Linked DNA regions of Homo sapiens: region 1 is linked to region 2. Evidence: fine-mapped expression QTL. A gene starts in region 2. The other region holds a variant in brackets. All regions are shown on one strand. Distances are between the middles of the regions. Region 1 has its middle 32 kb from the start of RGS18. Region 2 holds the start of RGS18 (regulator of G protein signaling 18).

Region 1 (5,402 bases), 31 kb before region 2:
AAGCCTGAGAGATAAAATAACCAAATCCGTAAAATCACGAGTATGAACACAGACTTGTTGGCTGAATCCAAAGTAAAACAAAGACCTAATTAGTTCTTTAAGAAATTTCAGTTTTAAAAGAAGTAAAATAATAATAATGTCTGAGGTAGTAAAACTGTTAAGCTTGTTAACTTGAGGAGCTGTCAAATACAAAATATAAACATCTAATAATGGTTTAATAAAGTCTATGATGTCAGTTACAGAAAATGTATTAAAACACGTACAAAATTCTTTCTTATTTGAACACATTTTCATAGGGATTATGACTTACATTCAAATACTGTGCCAATTCTCTGGTTCTCCCAAAACCTCCCATCCCTACCCCACCCCCACTGTAGTATTTCTGTTAAAGTTTAAATTTCCTTCTCTCTAATTTGTTGTTTTGCTATATTTTTATAATTCTTTTTTTATGTAGCACAATTTGAATTTTTAAAAAGAATGTTTATAAACACCTGTAAAAGTGTCATCATAATTTTAAATTTGATATCAACCTTTTTTTGTTGTTGTTGATGTCAAGTCTGGTCTAAATCATTACTTACCTTTTGAAGGAACTTGATCAAACAAACCGTTCTGTATCTTTGCCAAAGAGTCAGCCATATAATGTGGAAGGGAAAAATTAACCTCTGTGCTCAAACTTACTATATAATTTAAATGTTCACCTTTTATACTATTGATTTTAACCAGTGTTAGTAATTCTAGTATTTATTTTATAGATGAATTAGAATCTTGGAAACAAGCAAATACTAGATACTTTTCAATATTTCAGTATATGTAGCATATATAAAACATTAAAGAGAAGCAATGAGGCATTTTATAAAACAAAAAAATAGATTAGCAGTGCCCATTGTTATAAAATTATTTAACCTAATATCTAAAAATGAAGGTGGCTTATAGTTATAAATGAACATAACAGACATATGAATACATATCTTTGGCTTTTAAAGCCAAAGACAGAAATAACTTGGTATTTAATAATTGAGTATTTATTCAATTAAATATGCAATTTTAACATAAAATGTATTATTAAGTATCTAAGTTCTTATAAAACTCTGAAAGTCTGAAATTATATGCACAGGACATATGTGTACATATATGACTAAAATTTTAATATGGTTATGTGCCATGCATTATATCTTACATTCAAATACTATCCTAATAAATATAATTAATTTACTTCATTTCTTTCATGAAATAAAATTCTCTAAATGTTCACTCTCCCAAAGATTAGCATTCAGTTAAATGCTAGTGTTCTTAGTGTTTTATAAATAAAGTTTAAAAAAGTTAATTTTAATATAGCTTGCATTTCTTTCAACAATTACGTATGTGTATGTTTACGAACACATACAAGCATAACATTAGCAAAAGTAAATTTCAAGGAAATAATGTAGTTTCATGTTGAGTTTTGATTAATATTTAATTTCCATTAAAGTAAATGAGATAACTCTTGTGGCAGGATAATGAACATATCTAACATTTTGTTTTATTAGAAGAGAATCTTGATACTTTGTAGGTACTAATAAATTAATGGTTGATGAGAGGAATACATAAATGATATTGGTTGATATCTGAGTGACATTTTTACTCAAATTCTTTCTTTATTAATGTTGTAAATTAGTCTAGAAATGACTTCCTTATTCTGTTCTACAAAGTGTGAAGGTTTGTTGGGACATGAACTCTAATTTCCTTCCAGCACTAGTGTTTAAAGATGAAATAAAATTTTTAAAATCTGCAGAGTGTCTTATTCAGCTCCCAGTAATGAAGTAGATTTCCCATAACAGAACAGTGTCATGCTTTTAATAGACAATTCAAATATTGCAAACCTTTTATTATTCAAAATATATCACAATGTGCATTATTTGTAACGAAATACTGCGTTTTAGAATGATTACTACATCAATATTGTCTGTCTGTTTTTGGACTCTATTTTTTCTCATTCTTTATCTTCATATTTTTTATAATCCAATTTTTTAATATACTCTGTCTAGGATTTACCTCAAATATATAATCATTTTTCCATTTTGAGATTTGAATATATTTTATTCTTTACTTCAATCTAGTTCTAGTTCATGTTAATACCATACAGTACATTTTAAAAATTAAGATAAGTATTTTTTCACACATTAATACTATCTTTAAAACTTGATTTTTGTAATTAATATAATTCTATGAAAATTGATATTCATAT[C/T]CATAATCCATTGTTTCAATGAAAAAAATTTGTAGATTTTTAAAATATTAGAAGAATATAAATGTTAAAATGTTTATTTCTAGAATGGAAAATTAGACTTCTTTTTTATTCAACTTATGCTCCTTACATTTTTTTATTTGTCTTTAAGTGATATGTACAATTAATCATGTTAACTCTTCAATATGTACACTGTATAACCCTTTATAAAAACCATGGTATGATTTTAGAGTAGAGATGGTGGTTCAGAATATTATATTTTCACTTTTCTGTAATCTTTTTTCCAGAATATATACATTGTTTTTATTACCAATATATATGTCCTTGAAATTAAAGGATTTCCCCCATGTAACCTTTTTTGTTATGTTAAAGATCATTTAGACATGTGTCAATCATTTGTTGAAAAATTAGCTTTGAAATATTATAATATGCTATAATAATTACTTAACTCTGTCTCTAGAGATGTGTTTGCTGACTCAGCCATTCAAGAAAATGGGACTTTCTATCTAAAATACTCTTAAGTTTCTAAAGGCCTCAGAGACTCTATGAAAAATGAGAAAAATGAACGTGAAATGCTGTTTTTCCTCAGAAAGATAATGGCAGTTGCTGGAGTGAACTCCATCAATAATTTGCAATATTCAGTGATCTAAATAATGCTTATTTTTACGGGATTTTAGAAGTACTACAACTACTATTTTATTGATTTCTCCAATTACTATTATCAGTTATTTATAATCCCAGTTTTCTCATAAAAGTCTTCTGAATGATTTAAGTGTTGTCTTATTTCATCACTCCAAACACTTCCCTAAAGACTTTCTTCAATGAGGAAGAAATACTGATATTCCACAGCAGAGAAAATACACTCTTACCCAATTGACTGAGAAATGATTATGATAATTATATATTCCCTTTCAAAAATCAAACTCTGAGTGTGTGTGCACGCGCGCACACACTCCTGCGTGTGTAACACGCTGAAAACTTTTTATTTACAAATTTTTGTCAAAGTATCTGCCTGGAGAAAAGATAAAACAGACAAAAAACAACAGAAGAAAATATATGGTGAGGTGATTACTAAAGAAAAAATATGTAATGGGGCCAAACTGCAAGATTAGTGTTCCCTTCATGATCATGCAAACTTTTTAGATAATGTGTTTATTATATTTTTCAATAGAAGTGTTTAAGAATAATACAAATAAATAGGATTTCATGGGTTGAATCATGATTTTCCAGTGAACTTATTTAGTTCTCTCAGTTATCATACGTGTATGATCTTTTGGTTGATACTCATTTATCAGTATCTCTTAACATTCTTTCACAATTCTATCAAAAATTTACTTCCAAAGCCTCTATGTTAAATAATTTTCTATTAATGTAACTTGAATACATTTCTGGGAGCTTGCATTCTAATGTGAGTGATGCTCATTTATGAGATCAATTCCGGTTTCTAGAGATTGAGATTTTAAAGCAGATTTCAGTATGAATATAGCAATTTAATACCTAATCCTATATTATAAAATATACTCAGACATATTGTGAAGGCACAGCAACATGACTCTGCTGTTTAGCTACGTTGCATGAAATTGTCTTGCCATTTTTTAGACACAAGGAAGTCAAGATATATTATATATCAATGTTTCACATGTCATAGTGAAATGACTGATTTTTGTGTTTGCCTACATAGGAACACCGTTCATTTAAATACTACAGTGATAGCCTTTACATTATTTTATTTGTCTTTGTATCACTACTGTTCCATATAGTGACTGGGACAGAGGTGAAGCATGGCAAACATTTGTTGAACTACAGGAGTCTATGATTAAATAACGATAAATGAAGTATAAGATATTCCAAACTATGGATTATTAAATACATTTATTCCTGCTATCATTGATACTGATTTGATCTCACTTGGATTCATGTTTCAATATTTCAGTTTCTTTACATGTAACAACAGTTCCATGTTGAAAAAATGATTGTTGGGTTTTACATGTTGATGGCAATCTTTCCAAATGTTTTTTATTCACTTTCTTGCTCTAGTAAATTGCATCCAATAAAAAGAATTTTGACACTTTTTAGTGGATCAACATTTAACAATGATTCAGTCTTCATTTTTCCCACAATTTTATGTTTTTTACAGATAGATAACACAATAAAAAATAATAAGACTGTAGACAAACTATTTAAAATTTAATACTGTTGTTTTAGCAAATGTCTGACGTTTAAAATAGTTGCTTTGCTTATTACTTCTAAAAGGTTCATTTCTACTCTATAAAATTTAGTAGGTAAGATTCCAGGTAAATGTATATGTTTACTATTAAATAATTATGTCTAAAAACACAGCTGAATCTGATTTTTAAAAAAATTTTCCAAATGTAATATTTTACTACCTGTGCTGCTAAATTTGTATTGTTTCCCAAGTGATTTAATTTTGTAAATGTTTCTTAAAACTTGTGTTTTTTCATCTTCAAAGGACCCTTCTATAATTGGTTGATTTATAGAGCAAAACCAATAAAATGACCAAAAAATTCAAACCCATAATAAAATGTATTTATATATACATATACTTTCAGTTCCTCTTTTGTTTTATAAAAGATGCACAAAGATATGCAAGTTAGTGAATCTTTTGTATTGTCCTTAAATAAATGAGGAAATTAGTTACTTAACTCCTAGCTTCAAAAGATAAATGGTAATCTGCACGATTGGTCGTAGAAGGATTTGTTATTTGGGATACATACGAAGAAAAGTTTAAAACATGGCTTTCAGCTGCGTATTGCAGAATGCAAGCTTTATCAGACAATATACTATGAAGAGAGTTTTTCTTTCTCTCTCTTTCCCTGTCACTCCCACTGTTAAATTCACTTTTGAATGCTCAGAAGCTAGCAGTAGCAATCAAATGAAAGTGTTCAATAAATACTTGTTGATTTATTCAAGTTATAGAACATGAGTTTTGATAAGTTGTACGAATTTTTATTTTTATTGTTGAAAAGGCTTCAAATGATATAGCTAAATGAACGTGGTTACATCTGTGTTGGTAATTTTTTTCTTTTTTAGACAGATGATAAAGAGCCAGGAAATTAAATATAAGACCAGCCAATGTGGCACAATGAAAATAAATTAGTCTTTTTAAATTTAGTTAATGCCATAGCTAAGGCTTAGCATCTGATGAGGTGGGGCGGGGAGA
Region 2 (5,402 bases):
CTTTCTTCCAGTAGACACCTTAAAATTGTGAAAGACACGGGCAACGCTACAAGGAGTAGTTAGAGTAGTCTGGCTAACCTCATCTTGGAAGGGTCTGGGAAGAGCTGGGAAATGATTGTATTTCAAAGACTAAGGTGAGAAACTGGACAAGTTTAAAGTGCAAAAAAAAAAAGCTGTGGGCTTGAGGTGGATGTTTGGTAATGATAAAGCATTGCTTTTTTTGCAGACTCTGACAAGTTCAGGGTGGAGAATAATAAATCTGTGATTACCTAGCTGCATCACCTGCTCAGTTGAGTCTTTCTATCTGAAAGAAAGCATAAAATGAATACAGACAACAAAGTTCACTCACTTGCTACCTTATGTAAATTGACCCTAAAGAGTGGCAATCCAGGGAGCCTGCCTCCTAAGCCATGCTATATTATAACAGTGTTCCAGAGTCAAATGAGGCCTTGATGCTTGTCCTCACCCTCCATCTCACAGACAAAGCTCCACCTTAAATACATACTCGATTCTCAACATTTCTACAAAATTCTGCTTTAAAAATAGACAATTGATATGAAGTACAGAATGAAGAATTTATAAATTTTTTTTAAAACTGTGTTTATGGAGCGGGGCGCAGTGGTTCACGCCTGTAATCCCAGCACTTTGGGAGGCTGAGACGGGTGGATCACCAGGTCAGCAGATTGAGACCATCCTGGCTAACACGGTGAAACCCTGTCTCTACTAAAAATACAAAAAAATTAGCCGGGCGTGGTGGCGGGAGCCTGTAGTCCCAGCTACTCGGGAGGCTGAGGCAGGAGAATGGCCTGAACGGAGGCGGAGCTTGCAGTGAGCCGAGATGGCGCCACTGCACTCCAGCCTGGGCGACAAAGCGAGACTCCGTCTCAAAACAAAAAACAAAAACAAACAAACAAAAAAAACTGTGTTTATGTGGGTTTCCTGTATGTCCATCGAAAGAATTACTTGATATTTTTAATCCTTGAACAATGAAACTAACATGAATAGTTCGTTAATCATGAATTTGATAAAACCGAAGATTTCATTCAAAAATCGGAAAAATTTAAAAACTGAAACTAGCTACAGTATAAATAACTAATATTTCATCCACAGTAGGTAATTCTAAACAAAATGAGAACTTTTAAAAAAATTTCCATTATTTGACTTTTCTATTACTTAGTTCTGTTGATCAGAAAATTGAATTACTGAAAATTAACAATCAGACAAAAATTTTGTGACCTATTGTTTCGGATAATTACATGCATAGTTTGTGTAATTTTCCATTAAGCACACAAAGTATTTGGTGAAAGTACCACTAACCTCTATGGGAAAGCAGTTTGTCAAATGATTCACCCCATTTCACTGCCTCTTCAGGGGAGACTCTGTACAAGAAACAAAATGTTTTATAATGGAGTGTGCAGAAAGTCTGTTTATGAATCTGTTCTAACATATGCTATTTTACTGCTCTTTTCAATTATATTTCACAGTTTCTCCTTTGATTATAATATAATGAAAATTGCATTTACATTAGAAACTTTGAAAACATTGTTCAATTTTCTTTTGGAATTTGTCTGTTGAATAATGTGTTGAAATAACATTATTTTTTTTCTCATGGATATGTGAGTTTTATTTTTTAATTAAAAATTAATCCTTTTTTAGGTTAAAGGGCACAGATAACAAATATAAAGAAATCAGGTCAACTATCTGTTTAAATTCAGCAAGTAGAAAAAAACTAAACTCACAGTATCTTTCAGTTAAAAAAAAATTATACTGCAATTTCCTTGAAGCTGTAACCACACTAGGCTGCAAATTTTTTTTTTAAACGGATACAGGAAGTTTGACTAATAAAGTTTCAAAGGGATAAGAAATATAAGATATTTTAATAGAAAAAATATTCTAGAGATGTTGGTAATGTGGAGAATTGAATATATTTTCTCGGATCTTTTTTATTATACTCTAATTTGGAAGAATTTGTATGAAACTAGTATATAAGGTTTTTGCATTTTCTTTTTGAATTAAATAAATGCTAAGTATTAAAAGACATTATTTGTGCTTTACTTGCTATAATGCGTGTGTTTTTTCAAACTACTGAAGAAAGAGATGAATATCTCTCTGCTATGACAATATTGCATTGTGAAAACTCTTAAATTAATGAGCATTTTATCAGGTTATAAGGAGTAAAACATGTCATTTAAAACTGACAGGTATATAATTTTAAAAGAGCAGCTTTAAGTGTTCACGTGATTATTCAATTCAAGCGATTTAATTCAAGTGATTTAATTTTATGAAATATTTCTAGTCTCTTCAAATGAAATTTCTAACTTTCCTTATATTGCTGTGTAATTTTCAATAAATCAGAAATCCCTAACTGCATTTTTCTTAAATCTTTAATGATAGAATCAGCAAAATCTTCCTCAAAATACTGAAAATTTATTCACCTTGTTTCTTTGGCCAAGTGCCCAGATCTACTGGAGCGGGTGTCTTCATGAAACTCAGGTTTCTGCACAAGAAGACTTAGTCTATTTCTTTTTTCCTTAGCTCTGTAATAAAAAGGCCTTCATGTCAGGACAATTTAGATGACAGTTAAAATCTCTCCTGCTGACTACCAGAAAATTTTGTAGTTGGTAAAAACCCACGCCCACCCATACCCACACACTCATGAATCCCATTTAAATATTGTATTTGTGGAGGAATTAGGGTAACATACGAAAATGTTTCTCCTTTTGCTCACCGACAATCAAGTATTTGAGATTATATTTCAATAAAGATTGCACTAGTTCCTCTATGTGGCTAACATTATTACACTTTTTTTTTAATGAGAACACTTTAGATTTCAGTTTGTTGTTTAAACCTAAGAAATAAAAAGGTGTTTTTTTTTCCCAAATTATAGCAATACAAACAATATATTTTCCACCCAATAGTTCAAAAACAAGAGGTAATGAATCTTCAACCTCAATTATGCTTTTAAAAGTATAAGGCTGACTTAAAATTGTACAATTTTACCTGATTTTGGCTTCTTTGCTTGTTTCTTCTTTTCCTGAACCATGTATTAACTTGAAAAAAGTTTTTTCTTTTGATTCACACATATTTATTTGAGAAAAGAAAAGCAATGTTGTTTCCATCTTCTCTCTAAAATGAAGAGATGTCTAATTTATTACATCCTTCCCTAGTTCATTTATTAATACTATTCCATACATATACATAGTAGAATAAAAAGTTATCACAACTCTTACAGTAATGTTTACAAAAAAGAAGTCAAGAGCTGCGTTTCTTTCTGTCTCTGCAGAAATGCAGAACTGAGGAAATGAAGTACAATTTGGTCCTAAGTTGTTTAGGGAAATGATACCACAAATTTGCAAAATGACTCTTGGTCTCTAAGATAAAGACTAGTCTTACCACAGTGCAACTTCTCGTTCAAGTTTGCGCAACCAGAATGATGCTTTAATAGACTCAAATAACACTGTCATTTCCCACAGGAACTTTTCAAAAAGTTTTTAAATGTGTGGACTGTGTGTTAAAATGTGTTATGGCAAAGTATTATATCAAACATTAGGAGATATTTTCTCCAGTTCTTAAAAAAGTATTTTTCTTATTGTTATTACATGAGTTAAGTAAATCACATTTAACTGACATAAGATTATGTAATGTTAATTACATTGGCTTAACATATTGTAACAAAATAAGACAATAGATCAGAATTTTATGGTTAAAAAAAGATTGTAGAAAGCATTTAATTTAACAGTTTTGGGCTGGGCACAGTAACTCATGCCTGTAATCTGGAGGCTAAGGTGGGCAGATTACCTGAGCTCAGGAGTTCAAGACCAGCCTGGGCAACATGGTGAGACCCCATCTCTACTAAAAATACAAAAAATTACCCAGGCACGGTGGTGTGCACCTACAGTCCCAGCTACTCAGGAGGCAGAGCCAGGAGAATCCCTTGAACCTGGGAGTCGGAGGTTGCAGTGAGCTGAGATCATGCCGGCTACTTCACTTCAGCCTGGGCAACGGAGCAAGACTCTGTCTCAAATAAATAAATAAAGTTTTAAGCACATATCTATAGAATGATTTTAGACATTTTTGAAATTTTTATCAGTCTGTGATGAAATGGAAAAAAATATGAAAAGTTTTTTTTCTTAAAGCTTTATTTTAATTCCTTTGATATAAAGGACTTGCTATTTTGAATTTGCTCTCCTGACTCTTTTGTTGTTAAAATGTTCTTTATAATGTAAAAATGTTCTTTATAATGACATGGATTAAGTAGAGATGGTAGTTTTTATATTTTAATGCCTTTATTAAAAAAAATGTTGACAACTCCAATTGGTTTAGCCTCCACTTCTTTCACTGTTTTATAGAATACAAAAGTCTTACAAATGCAGTTCTAGTCCATAATTCAAATTTTATTGAAAAATAAACCAAAGTTCACAGGCATTAGGTAATTTAATCCTACAAAGTTTCAGAGACAGGCCAGTGGAAAATCTGGAATTATCAGAGCCTTTGATCACCTACTATGTGCTTTAGTCCTTCCAAGAATCTTTGATCTCCAGTAGTGAATGCTTTAATCTAAAATGGTATATATTGAAAGCTGAGTTATACAAACCTAAAAGAAAATTTTATTTTCAGTCTTTTTGAATTATTTTTTTACCAAGACAATTTATCAGGGATACCAGCTAAAAGCTCAAAACATTTATCTATATGAAATTAAAGACTTTCTAGTATATATTTATACATATACCCCCTGATTCCATGACTTGTACTTTGAACATATTTTAAATCTCTCACCTTGGCTGAGAATTGAAAAATATTATGTATGATGGCATTTTGCATTGAGCTTCTGCTGGAAATGGATACTGATAATGCAGATTATGCTTCCACCCTGCTGTCCCCTAGTAATGATTAGTATCCACTGTGTTTATATCAGTTTAATCCTATGAAGGTGAATGAGCACAAGAGAAAATCATAGGAGCATGGACATCATCCAGTCACTAGGACTATAACTTAACTGTTAACTCAGAGAAGTTAAAGACATAAAATCAATATATTATTTTTCATAAGATATGTTAAATTTATGTGTGAAGTGTGCTATACACAATGCTGATAGAACCGTGGAAAAAGAAATTGTGAAAATACGGGCACAAGTTGCCGGGCACGGTGGCTCATACCTGTAATCCCAGCACTTTGGGAGGCTGAGGCAGGTGGATCATGAGGTCAGAAGTTCAAGACCAGCCTGGCCAAGATGGTGAAACCCCATCTCTACTAAAAATACAAAAATTATCCAGGCGTGGAGGCAGGTGCCTGTAATCCCAGCTACTGGGGAGGCTGAGGCAGAGAATTGCTTCAACCCGGGAGTCAGAGGTTGCAGTGAGCCGAGATCATGCCACTGCACTCCAGCCTGGGCGACAGAGTAA

The links. PIP is the estimated chance that this variant, and not a neighbour inherited with it, causes the effect.
Region 1: its variant is the best candidate, but not a certain one, in a credible set for the expression of RGS18 in whole blood (TOPMed, PIP 0.75).

What each region holds. Positions count from the first base shown.
Region 1 is chr1:192,187,553-192,192,954 of GRCh38, reverse strand. No RefSeq gene overlaps it. Among named protein-coding and RNA genes, the nearest start is that of RGS18, 32 kb to the right of the region's middle. The variant C/T (reference allele first, on the strand shown) is at 2,225.
Region 2 is chr1:192,156,355-192,161,756 of GRCh38, reverse strand. It overlaps RGS18 (regulator of G protein signaling 18), which reads right to left and starts at 3,295. Exons shown (of 5, transcript NM_130782.3): 1 at 3,001-3,295; 2 at 2,436-2,537; 3 at 1,318-1,379. The coding sequence starts at 3,119.